Regions from separate parts of the Homo sapiens genome. Here region 1 is linked to region 2. Evidence: fine-mapped expression QTL. Tissue or cell type: whole blood. Region 2 holds a variant in brackets; the other region holds the start of a gene. All regions are shown on one strand. Distances are between the middles of the regions.

The links. PIP is the estimated chance that this variant, and not a neighbour inherited with it, causes the effect.
Region 1: LINC02656 starts here. The variant in region 2 is fine-mapped to the expression of LINC02656 in whole blood (TOPMed, PIP 0.97).

What each region holds. Positions count from the first base shown.
Region 1 is chr10:6,347,041-6,352,410 of GRCh38, reverse strand. It overlaps LINC02656 (long intergenic non-protein coding RNA 2656), which reads right to left and starts at 2,095. Exons shown (of 1, transcript NR_148966.1): 1 at 1-2,095. RefSeq lists a cis regulatory region at 3,901-4,401.
Region 2 is chr10:6,394,818-6,400,199 of GRCh38, reverse strand. It overlaps LOC124902370 (a long non-coding RNA gene), which reads left to right. Exons shown (of 2, transcript XR_007062044.1): 2 at 1-1,871. It also overlaps a transcript of PRKCQ not described here. Among named protein-coding and RNA genes, the nearest start is that of LINC02656, 47 kb to the right of the region's middle. The variant T/G (reference allele first, on the strand shown) is at 3,310.

The DNA.
Region 1 (5,370 bases), 48 kb after region 2:
GATGGATGGAAATGTATATTTGTATTTACCTCTGATAATTTCTCAAAAGTCTTCTTAGTTTGAGCACTAACATTGATTCTCTAGTTATGCTTGCTACACAGAATACAGGGCATCTATTTATCTGAAAATATTCATTATCCCATATTGTACTAGAGCCATATCCATTCTTTATCTGACACATCTGAAATTAGTTGTTATTTATCTGAAATTCAAATTTAATTTGATGTACCACATTTTAATTTGAGAAATCAGACAAACCTAGTTCTTAACATACCACCTTCACAAGACAGCCTGGCTAGAATACTCCACTGGTCTCTGAGCAAAAGCCTAATCCCCTTAAAGAGTCTAAGCCCATTAACCTATAGCAGCCAAACTGAGTGCTGTAAACAACCTCTATTTTTGAGCTCCTGATCTTCTCCATTAGTCAAGACAAATTAGAAAAACAATAAGAAAGAGAACAACCCATCATGACAATGGAAGAACCAGGCCATGATCTTTCCAAGCACAAACTGCAGCATTTTAGCATCTTCCCAGCACTGCTTCCCTGTCTATCCCTACCTGTCCTCCCCTGCCTCTGACATTAGTCATCATGATGCCTTCCTGCTTCTCCAAGGGACTCAGGATCTGATCCTTGCCTCCCCATCCAACCACCTGCCTGCCTGCCTGTCTCCCTCTCTGCACTCCAGCCAGCTTGCATGTCTCTTCGTTCCTCCCCTGCACCAGGCTCCTTCTTGCCACAGGATCTTTGCACATGCTCTGGCTTCTGCTTGGAAAGCCTTCTCTGTCTCCTCCTCCCTCCTCCCATTCCTTGGTTAACTCTTAGTCATCCATCATCACAGCTGCAAAGTCACTTCCCTAGGGAAGCTGTCCCTTTTTGCAGGCTGGTCAGCTTCCTCGGATCTAAGCTGTTAAAAGTTCTGTGTATTTTCCCTTCTCTACACTTACCATAGTTGACATTTTATTTTTGCTCTGGGATTATTTGGTTAATGTGCTAGAATCAAAACTCCAGAAGGGCCAGAACACTATGGCTTTTTTTGTTATCACTATGTTCCCAGCACTCAGCAAAAGAAAAATAAAAAACCAGACCCTCATTGTCACCTAATGGTGGTACTGTAATTCTCTCATTCCTTCCAAATGTATCAGCTGAATTTTTCAATAAAGAAGACATTTCCCTTATCAGCTCTTCCGTAACTGTGAGGTACAGTTTATACAAGAAAAGCAGAATAAATGCTTGAATTTTCCCCTTCTATTTACCAGTTTTCAGAATAATCAGAGGTGACAGACTCCTCCAAAGGTAACAAATGAGTTTGGTTTTACCGTTTTGAGTATTATGAATTCATGGATGTATACATGTTGATGTGTTTCAGTCCACTAAAGTCATTATTCTTTGGGATGCTCAAATTGTCTCATTGTTGGCCAGTAGAAGCCTGGGCCCTTTTGCCATGACCTCAGTTGTCTTTAATAGCTGTCCGGCTTGTATGACAAGACATTCTTGGATCCCCTTGTACAGCTCCTGACACCAATCTGGTTCAGCTATTTCTTCAAGAAGGCCTGGTTCCTTGTACATTCTTATTCACCTGTGGTTTCAATTCCCTAGTCTCTAAAAGAAACACTACAAATAGAAATTCTGTTCTGATTTTTCTCCTGTACAGCGGACCTGTATACCTAACAGATGACTGGGCATTGCCATCTCTGCCCACAACACACATCCTGAATTTGACTTGTTTGCACATGAAGTCATCATCCCTCCCCAAGATGGGCTCTCTATTATGCCTTCCTTGGGGATCAGTACTTGGAGTCGGGTCAGGGCAAGATACTGTTAGTGACATGTGGAATTCAGCCACACCATCATGAGAAGGTCCTCTCTGTGTGTTCTGGCTAAACCAGCCTTCTACCAGGTTAGCACGATTCTGGGCTTTGCAACATTCATGACCTGTTTGAGGGCACTGAAGGAGATGCTCAGCCACATCCCTTAATTTGCATGAGCCTGTAGGAAAAATATGTTTAAGAAGTCTGGCTGTCTGAGCAGGCCAAAGGAGAAGATGGAAGAGAAGGTGGTTTCCTGAAAGCATGAAGCTGTATCTGTTCATATTTTGACACCATCCCAGGAAGAAGAGGCTGAGGTAGGAAAGTACAGTCAGCTCTGGGAGTTCCCTCTGGAGAAGCTGGCTATGAGACGTGGAAGAAGCTCCCCAGCTGCAGTAGAAGGCACGAGAAGGTTTCAGGCTTTCCAGGTGGGCGTAGAATGGGCAGCAGCACAGGCATAACCTGGAGTGGCACAGGTGCCAGGGAAGAGGGCAGACGCCATGCGTGACATAGCAAGGGGATCACACCGCATCCATTGTGCATGAGACCACTTTTCACCACCCAGGCGACTCAAGGAGATAACTGGATGGGTGGTTCCAGGAAAAGAATGGACATCCTGCTAGGCCATCATATGCTGTCTCAGAGCACTGAGGTTTGATAAATGTGGTGAATTTGGAGGCACTCACAGCTGAGTCCCAGCACAGAGTGGGCACATAAGCAACACCATTTTCTCATTGCCCAAGCCAGCCCCTGCCCACAGCACCTCCACTTCCCAGAGCCACACCCAATCAATGGCCAACTTATGATTCTAATCTTGAATGTCTGTCGAGATCTTTTCCTTCTCCATCACTAAGCTCTCTCCTTTAAGTAAAAATTTTTCTCCTGGAGGAATGCCTCCTGGCTGATGCTTCTGCAAATCACCTCACTTCTCTTCAAGCCCTCCTCTGTTACAGACTATTCCAAATTTTTTTTTGTTTTTTTGTTTTTTTGTTTTTAACTTTTGCCTACCTTGTCGGCTCACGCCTGTAATCCCAGCACTTTGGGAAGCCGAGGTGGGTGGATCACCTGAGGTCAGGGGCTCTAGACCAGCCTGGCCAACATGGTGAAACCCTAGCTCTACTAAAAATTCAAAAATAAGCCGGGTGTGGTGGTGGGTGCCCGTAATCCCAGCTACTCAGGAGGCTGAGGCAGGAGAATCGCTTGAACCCAGGAGGCGGAGGTTGCAGTGAGCCAAGATCGAGCCACCGCACTCCAGCCTGGGTGACAGAGTGAAACTCCATCTTAAAAAAAAAAAAAAAAAATGCCTACCTAAATCTAACGTAAAACTTTGAGCTCACTCTGAAATATATTCATATTTACTTACAAGGGGAAAATGCCCTATGAACTGAAAATTATGTGTATTTTAGAACATACACAAAAGAGAAGTTAAAAGAAAATGAGAAAAATAAATAGATGTGATAATACTTTATTTCATTACTCCGATTAATAGTCTTACCAAACTCACCCGAAGACTGCCTGCAAAGTTCTTGAAGGAGCTTGGGATTGTAGGTGCTTTTGATGTTTTATTCAGACTGGACTAGATGCTTTAACCCTGAAGGTGCATCTTACGTATCTAAAAAAGACTTCCCTTAGGGCTAAACATAACAGAAAAGTGATGAATGAAGGAATCTGTCCAACATGTCATCTTTGATTGAAGATAAATACATTCATCTTATGGTTCTAGCTCTATTAAATTGAGTCTGTTTAATACACCCTGTCTGCAGCTAAACTAATTATTTCAGGCTGGATTTTCAATTTCTTACCTAGCCCTAGGATAAAACACAGAGTTGAATGGTTACGTAATCACCAGGTGCCGCTCAAGTGGTGATTTTTCAAATCAAGTATGGATCTCAAAGAAGAGAAGCAAATAACAACAGAGATACTTCTTGTGCTAGGGCCCTGGTTGCAGGACGGTGTCCCACCAGGCTACAGCTCTTAAATGGCAGAGCTGCTGCTGACACCTCTGTCGTTCTTGCAAGATCAAATACCAACTGCGTTGACTTCAAATCTGGCTTAAAAATAGGCCTAGCAGGCATAGTTTTCTCATCAAAACAAATTAGCCTAAAAAATAGCATTCCGAGAGACCAAGGGTTAGGAAAATTGTCCTGTGAGTGTTTTGAATTCTTTGTCACCCTTCATAACTGGTGCCGTTCATGAGGGAGCTTATTGGCTTGGGGGATGACAACTTGAACAGCAAAACAGGATGTGTCACCACCAGGCCCCCTGCTCTGCTGCAATCTACGAGAATTAATCAGTTTTGGGTTTTTTTGTTGGTGGTGACGGTGGTTTTTTTCCTTTCTTTCTTCCTTTTTTATGTCAGCGTCTCAGATGGGCACACACTGAAACAGCTTCTTATTTGCATGCGGTGTGGCCTGGCGAGGGTGAACTGAGGACACGCAGAGCTCCCTCTGACTTGGCACCGGCAGGAAGTCGGCGGCAAGAAGCTACCACTTTTCAAGCCTGGGTGGCTTTTTCTTTTTTCTCTGTCATTCATTTTGGAAGAAAGCATAAGTTTGATTTCAAACAGAACACAAAAACTTGGAAGGAGGGCCAAACACAGGCAGGCAGATGATTCTTGTCCCCACTTTTACTTTTTTAAAATTTAATTGGAGATGCTGCAGAGGTGGCAGAAAGGGGCCAGAGGATGGTAGGTGCAGACTCGCTGCGGTGACAATGCCCCGGGCATCCCCTTTCTGCACAGTGGGGCACGGCATCCAGGGGCAGCCTCCTCTCCAGACACCTGGGCAAATCCAAATCTGTGTTTCTTTGTCATTCACCTGAGGAGAAGTCCCTTATTCCAACGACCACTCCCGTGTGAGCGGTGACAGGTTTGAGCAGAATGAGTCAACGCTGAAATGATGCCTGTGCCATTTCACAGGAATTTGCTTCTTTCTCGCTGGTTTTCAGATGCAGTTCGAGGCTTCCGTTTTTTTCTCTGGATTTGAATCTCGTCCACAGATCACTGCTGCCTTGCAGCTGAGTGTGTCATTTGCAGCCCTGCTGTCTGGGGCCCGAGACTCCACACAAGATGTGCTCAGAGAAGCAAATGAACAACTCTGCTCTGATAGGGGCAGCAAAGAGGCAAGCAGCTACCAACAGAAGGACACTGAGTTTCTGGGGGTGGCATCTGGCCAAGGTTCCTGTCATCTCTCTCAGATAAAACACCAAATTCTTCCCCAACAGAAGCAGCAAAAACATATAATATAGGCCAGCGCAGCGGCTCACACCAGTAACTTATGCCTTGGGAGGCTGACGGGGGAGGATCACTTGAGGCCAGGAGTTGGAAACAAGACTGGGCAGTATAGCAATATCCTGTCTCTACAACAAAATTTTAAAAATTAGCTGGGCATGGTGTTGCATGCCTGTAGTCCCAGCTACTTGGAAGGCTGAGGTGGGAGGATCACTTGGGCCCAGGAGGTCAAGGCTGCAGTGAGCCATGATTGCACTACTGCATTCCAGCCTGGGTGACAGCGAGACCCTGTCTCAAAACAAGACAAACAAATAAACAAAAAAAACCATAATGTA
Region 2 (5,382 bases):
CGGGGGATTCAGTGTTGAATGAGGAAACTCAGGTAGAGAACACCAAGTCAGCAGCCGACATCTCCAGCTGGCTAGTAACAGAGCCCCATTCTAACTTGGGCAATCTGGCCACGTTCCTGCTCTTCACCTGGACTCTGCCTTCTCTTTCAGTTCTGACGTGCGTCAAACCGTGCAGCATGTTCAAATTCATTCAAATCCATCAGTGGCACAGAAGAACACACAAAATCTGGCAATACTTCCTTGAACTAAACTCAGTGTCCGCCCCCCCAACCCCCGATTGATGCCAGACATTTGCCACCCTGGGGACTTGATCTGAGTGACCTTGGGTTCATAGGAGATGCTGGGCCCTTGGAATTGATTGTCTACCCTGTAGGAATGGAGGCCACATCTCTGTTCTGCCTGGAGAACTTTTTCATCATGAGTTTGTGGAATCCGCCAGCCAAGCCCACCAGACAGGACTAAACAAACGACTCTAGGGGGAAAGGCCAGGCTTCCTGAAAGTCTAAATTGCTTGAACTAATGCTGGCATTTCAGCATTTTGAGCCATTCAAGCCACATGATGTCAAACTTCCTCTCCTCCACCCCCATCTCCTCACCCTGCTCTCTTCTGCCTCTTGACCTTCCTCATCTTGTGGCTCTGGCAAAACTCCAGGGTGGCTATTCAACCTGTCTCAACACACCCTGTGCCAAAAAAAAATAAAAAGAAGGAAAAAAAAAAGGGGGCAATTTCTGTCTCCAGGGCAAGGGCTGCTGGGCTCAGCCGGGTGGATGTTGCCAAGAGCGCAGCAATAGCTCCAGGCTAGGCAGGGAGCACAAAGGAATCTTTAAATTTAAAACTCACTGCAGAAAGGAATTGAGCACATTCTCAACATTCTGAGTCTGTGTGTTTATGTTTAAATATTCCAACCACTAGCTTACATACCATCTAGTAAGTAAATCACGGTGAATATTTATCGAGGACCTACTATATGCAAGGCACTCTGCTCACCATTATTTACTTGTGGGGACACTATGGCTTTCACCCAAAGCTGTCATTCTCTAGGCTGCCTTTTCATATCTACAAAGCAAGGGAGTTTACATTGACAGTCTCCAGAAATTCAGCTTTAATGGCTGGGTGCAGTGGCTCAGCCATTGTATCATTGTATCATTGTATTGATATGCCTGTAATCTCAGCACTTTGGGAGGCTGAGGCAGGCAGATTGCTTGAGTTCAGAAGTTCGAGACCAGCCTGGGCAACATGGTGAAATCCTACAGAAAACTCTATAAAATTTTTTTTTAATTAGTTGGGTGTGGTGGCTTGCACCTGTGGTCCTAGATACTCGGGAAGCTAAGGTGGGAGGATGGCTTGAGCCCAGGAGGTAGAGGTTGCAGTGAGCTGTAATTGCGCCACTGCACTCCAGCCTGGGTGACAGAGCCAGACTGTGTCTCAAAAAAGAAAAGAGAAAAAAAAAGAAAAAGAAAAATTCAGCTCTAAAATTGTGACTCGTTCCTTGCTCTACTGTGAGCATCCTGAAAGCAATTGTGTCTCCTTTCTCTCTCTCTCCCAGCATCTAGCACAGGCCATGACATGGAGGAAATGATGGGTAAACGTCCATTGAGCAAATCAAACTTCTGAAATAAGGCTCTTCAAGAAGGTTTCAACAACCAACCAAAGGCTGACTCACATGCCCACTCCAAATGAATGAGAAAACATATTATAGAATTTTCCTGTTGTTGAACAGCTGGGCACAGAAAGCTTTTTTCCTCCATGAAAGAATATTGACTAACTTATGCAAGCCTCTCAAAATCTAAAAGTATTTTCCAACACACAGTCAAATTATATGACAAACAGCCCTTTATTTTAAAATAAATATCATCTTTTGAAGAACTAAGTTGGAAGACTTACACTTCTTAATTTCAAAACTTACTACACAGTGACAGCAATCAAGATATTGTGGTACTGGCGTAAGACTAGACATGAAAATCAATGGAATAGAATACAGAGTTCATACATAAATAAGCCTATACATTTATGGTCATCGACTTTCAACAAAGGTGCCAAGGGAATGCAAAGGAGAAAAAATAGGATTTTCAACAAATGATGCTAAGAACAGCTGAATATCTACATTCAAAAGAATGAGCTTGAACCCCAATCTCACACCATGCACAAAAAGCAGCTCAAAATGGATGATAGACTTAAATGTAAGAAGTAACACTTATGAGATTCTTAAAATAAAACATAGGGATAAATCTTGACTTTGGGTTAGGCAAGGATTTCTTTCTTTCTTTTTTTTTTAGACGGAGTCTCGTGCTTGTTGCCTAGGCTGGAGTGCAATGGCACGATCTCAGCTCACTACAACCTCCATCTCCCAGGTTCAAGCGATTCTCCTGCCTCAGCCTCCCGAGTAGCTGGGATTACAGGTGCCCACTGCTGTGCCCGCCTAATTTTTTGTACTTTTAGTAGAGATGAGGGTTCACCACATTGGCCAGGCTGGTCTCAAACTCTGACCTCAGGTGATCCACCCACCTTGGCCTCCCAAAGTGCTGGGATTACAGGCATGAGCCACCGCACCCAGCCAGCAAGGGTATCTTAGATACAATATCACAAATATGGAAGCTAGAGGTAAAAGTTGATAAATTGGACTTTCATCAAAATAAACAATGTCTGCACTTTAAACAACACTATCAAGGAAGTGAAGAGACAGCCAAGAGACTAGGAGAAAATATTTGCAAATAATATATCTGATAATGCAATAGTATACAAAATATATAAATATTACAACTCTACAATATGATGACAAAAATTCAATTTAAAAATAGGCAAAGGGGTCGGACATGGTGGCTCATGCCTGTAATCTCAGCACTTTGAGGGGCCAAGAGGGCGGATTGCCTGATGTCAGGAGTTCGAGACCAGCTTGGCCAACAGGTGAAACCCCGTCTCTACTACAAATACAAAATTAGATGGGCAAGTTGGCGCATGCCTGTAATCCCAGCTACTCGGGAGGCTGACGCAAGAGAATCACTTGAACCCGGGAGGCAGAACTTGCAGTGGGCTGAGATCATGCCACTGCACTCCAGCCTGGGCAACAAAGTGAGACTCAAAAAAAAAACAGGCAAATAATTTGAATAGACATTTTTCTAAAGAACATGTGCAAATGGCCATTAAACACATACAAAGATGGTCAACATCGTTAGTCATTAGAGAAATGCAAATAAAACCACAATGAGTTGGCACTTCGCTCCCTAGGATGCCTACAGTAAAAAAGATGGGCAATCGCATGTGTTGACAAGGATGTGGGGAAATTAACCAACATACAGTGCTGCTGGGAA[T/G]GTAAAATGTTGCAATGCATTTGAAAAATAGTTTGGCAGTTAAATTTTCAACACATGGTTACCATATGACCTAGCAGTTCCTCTCCTAGTTATATATCCAAGAGAAGTGAAAACATATGTCCTAGTCAAAGACATGTGCACCAAGCTTCGCTGCAACATGATTCATAATAGCCAAAAGGTATGAACAACCCAAATGTGCATCAACTGATGAATGGATAGACAAATGTAGTGCCATACTCACACAACAGAACGCTACTCAGCAATAAAAAGGAATCAGGTGCTCTTACATGGTATAATATAAGTCAGCCTCAAGAACATTAAGCTAACTGGAAGAAGCAAGTCACAAAAGACCATGTAGTATATGATTCCACTCATGTGAAATATCTAATGGAAGCAAATCTATCGAGACAGAAAGTAAATTAGTGTTTGCCTAGGGCTTGACATGGGGAGACTGGGGAGTGACCTCTATGGGTACGGAGGCTCTTTGCGGAGTAATGAAAATGTCCTGAAATATGACTGTGATGGCAGTTACACAACTCTGTAAATATATGAAAAGCATTGAATTGTATACTTTAAAAGGGTAAATGTTACGCTGTGTGAATTGTATTGTATCTCAATAAAACTTGTTTTAGTAAAAACATCAACTCTTGAGGGCAAAAAAAGCCTTAGTTTTAGCCAAGTTTCTAACATCTAGCAAATGGCAAGGGGAATTAAATGCTGGAGTCTAGTACTTAGGGGTGACTTTTTACATTTATTATCTATTTAACTATGATAATAGTAGCATCTAAGTTCCCAGGACAGAGATGATATCATTATCGATCGCCATTTGCTATTGGGAAGTTTTAATATCTACTAATGTTTTTCAGTCCCTGGAGCTAGGAAGTCTCACTGCTTGAGGATTCCATTAAGTCTTCCTGCATCTTACTGATGGGGAAAACTGAGGGAACGCTACAATGGTGTATTCAGACCCGTCACGAGAGCTAAATAGAGTGGGAGCAGAGAAGGAAAAGGTTGGCCTCTGAAAAATATACTCAGTACAGGGCACTGACGGTCAGGACCTCGGCAATGTTGGTAATGAAACCGCCATTGCAAAATAATGACTGAGACAGTGAAAGAGATCTGACCTGACTCCGCCTTGCTTCTAACCTCCAAGCTGTCCTTGTTTATTCCTGGGCTGAGCTAACTTTGGGAGGGACTTAGTTTATAGTTTAAAACAAAGACGATAATACCCCTTTCCCAAAACAAACCTCCTTCTTACCTGGGGACTAGACTGCCTTTGTAGAGCTAAGAAATTAGCCACAAGATTAGAAATTATGGTTTAGGAGTCACGCAATTGGAGGCTACGGGATTCTGACCCTCCCTAAGCTGCTCCTAAGATCAGGGCTTGAGATATTTTGCAGATCCTGCACTTGATGGATCAGCTGGTACCTCCTCAGGAGCCTTCTCCCCATTTACCAAATTATTCTTAAAAACTCTGATCCCTGAATGCTCAGGGAGACTGGCTTGAGTAATAATAAAACTCCAGCCGGCCGGGCGCGCTGGTTCACGCCTGTAATCCCAGCCCTTTGGGAGACCGAGGTGAGCGGATCACGAGGTCAGGAGATCGAGACCATCCTGGCTAACACGGTGAAAACCCCGTCTCTACTAAAAGTACAAAAAATTAGCCGGGCACGGTGGCAGGCACCTGTAGTCCCAGCTACTCGGGAGGCTGAAGCGGGAGAATGGCGTGAACCCGGGAGGCGGAGCTTGCAGTGAGCCGAGATCACAGCCACTGCACTCCAGCCTGGGAGACAGAGCGAGACTCCGTCTCAAAAAAAAAAAAAAAAAAAAAAAAGACTCCAGCTTCCTGCACAGCTGGCTCTGTGTAAATTATTTGTTCTCTATTGCAATTCCCCCGTCTTGATAAATCGGCTCCCTCTAGGCGGCGGGCAAGGTGAACCCACTGGATGGTTACAGTAACAGCAAAGGTCGCACCGTTCCGGCACAAGGAAGACCTTCAGGGAAGAGTCATGAAGAGAAGGAGTGAATGATGTATGTGTGGAAGAACAGTATCAAGCTATTCCTCTCAACCAT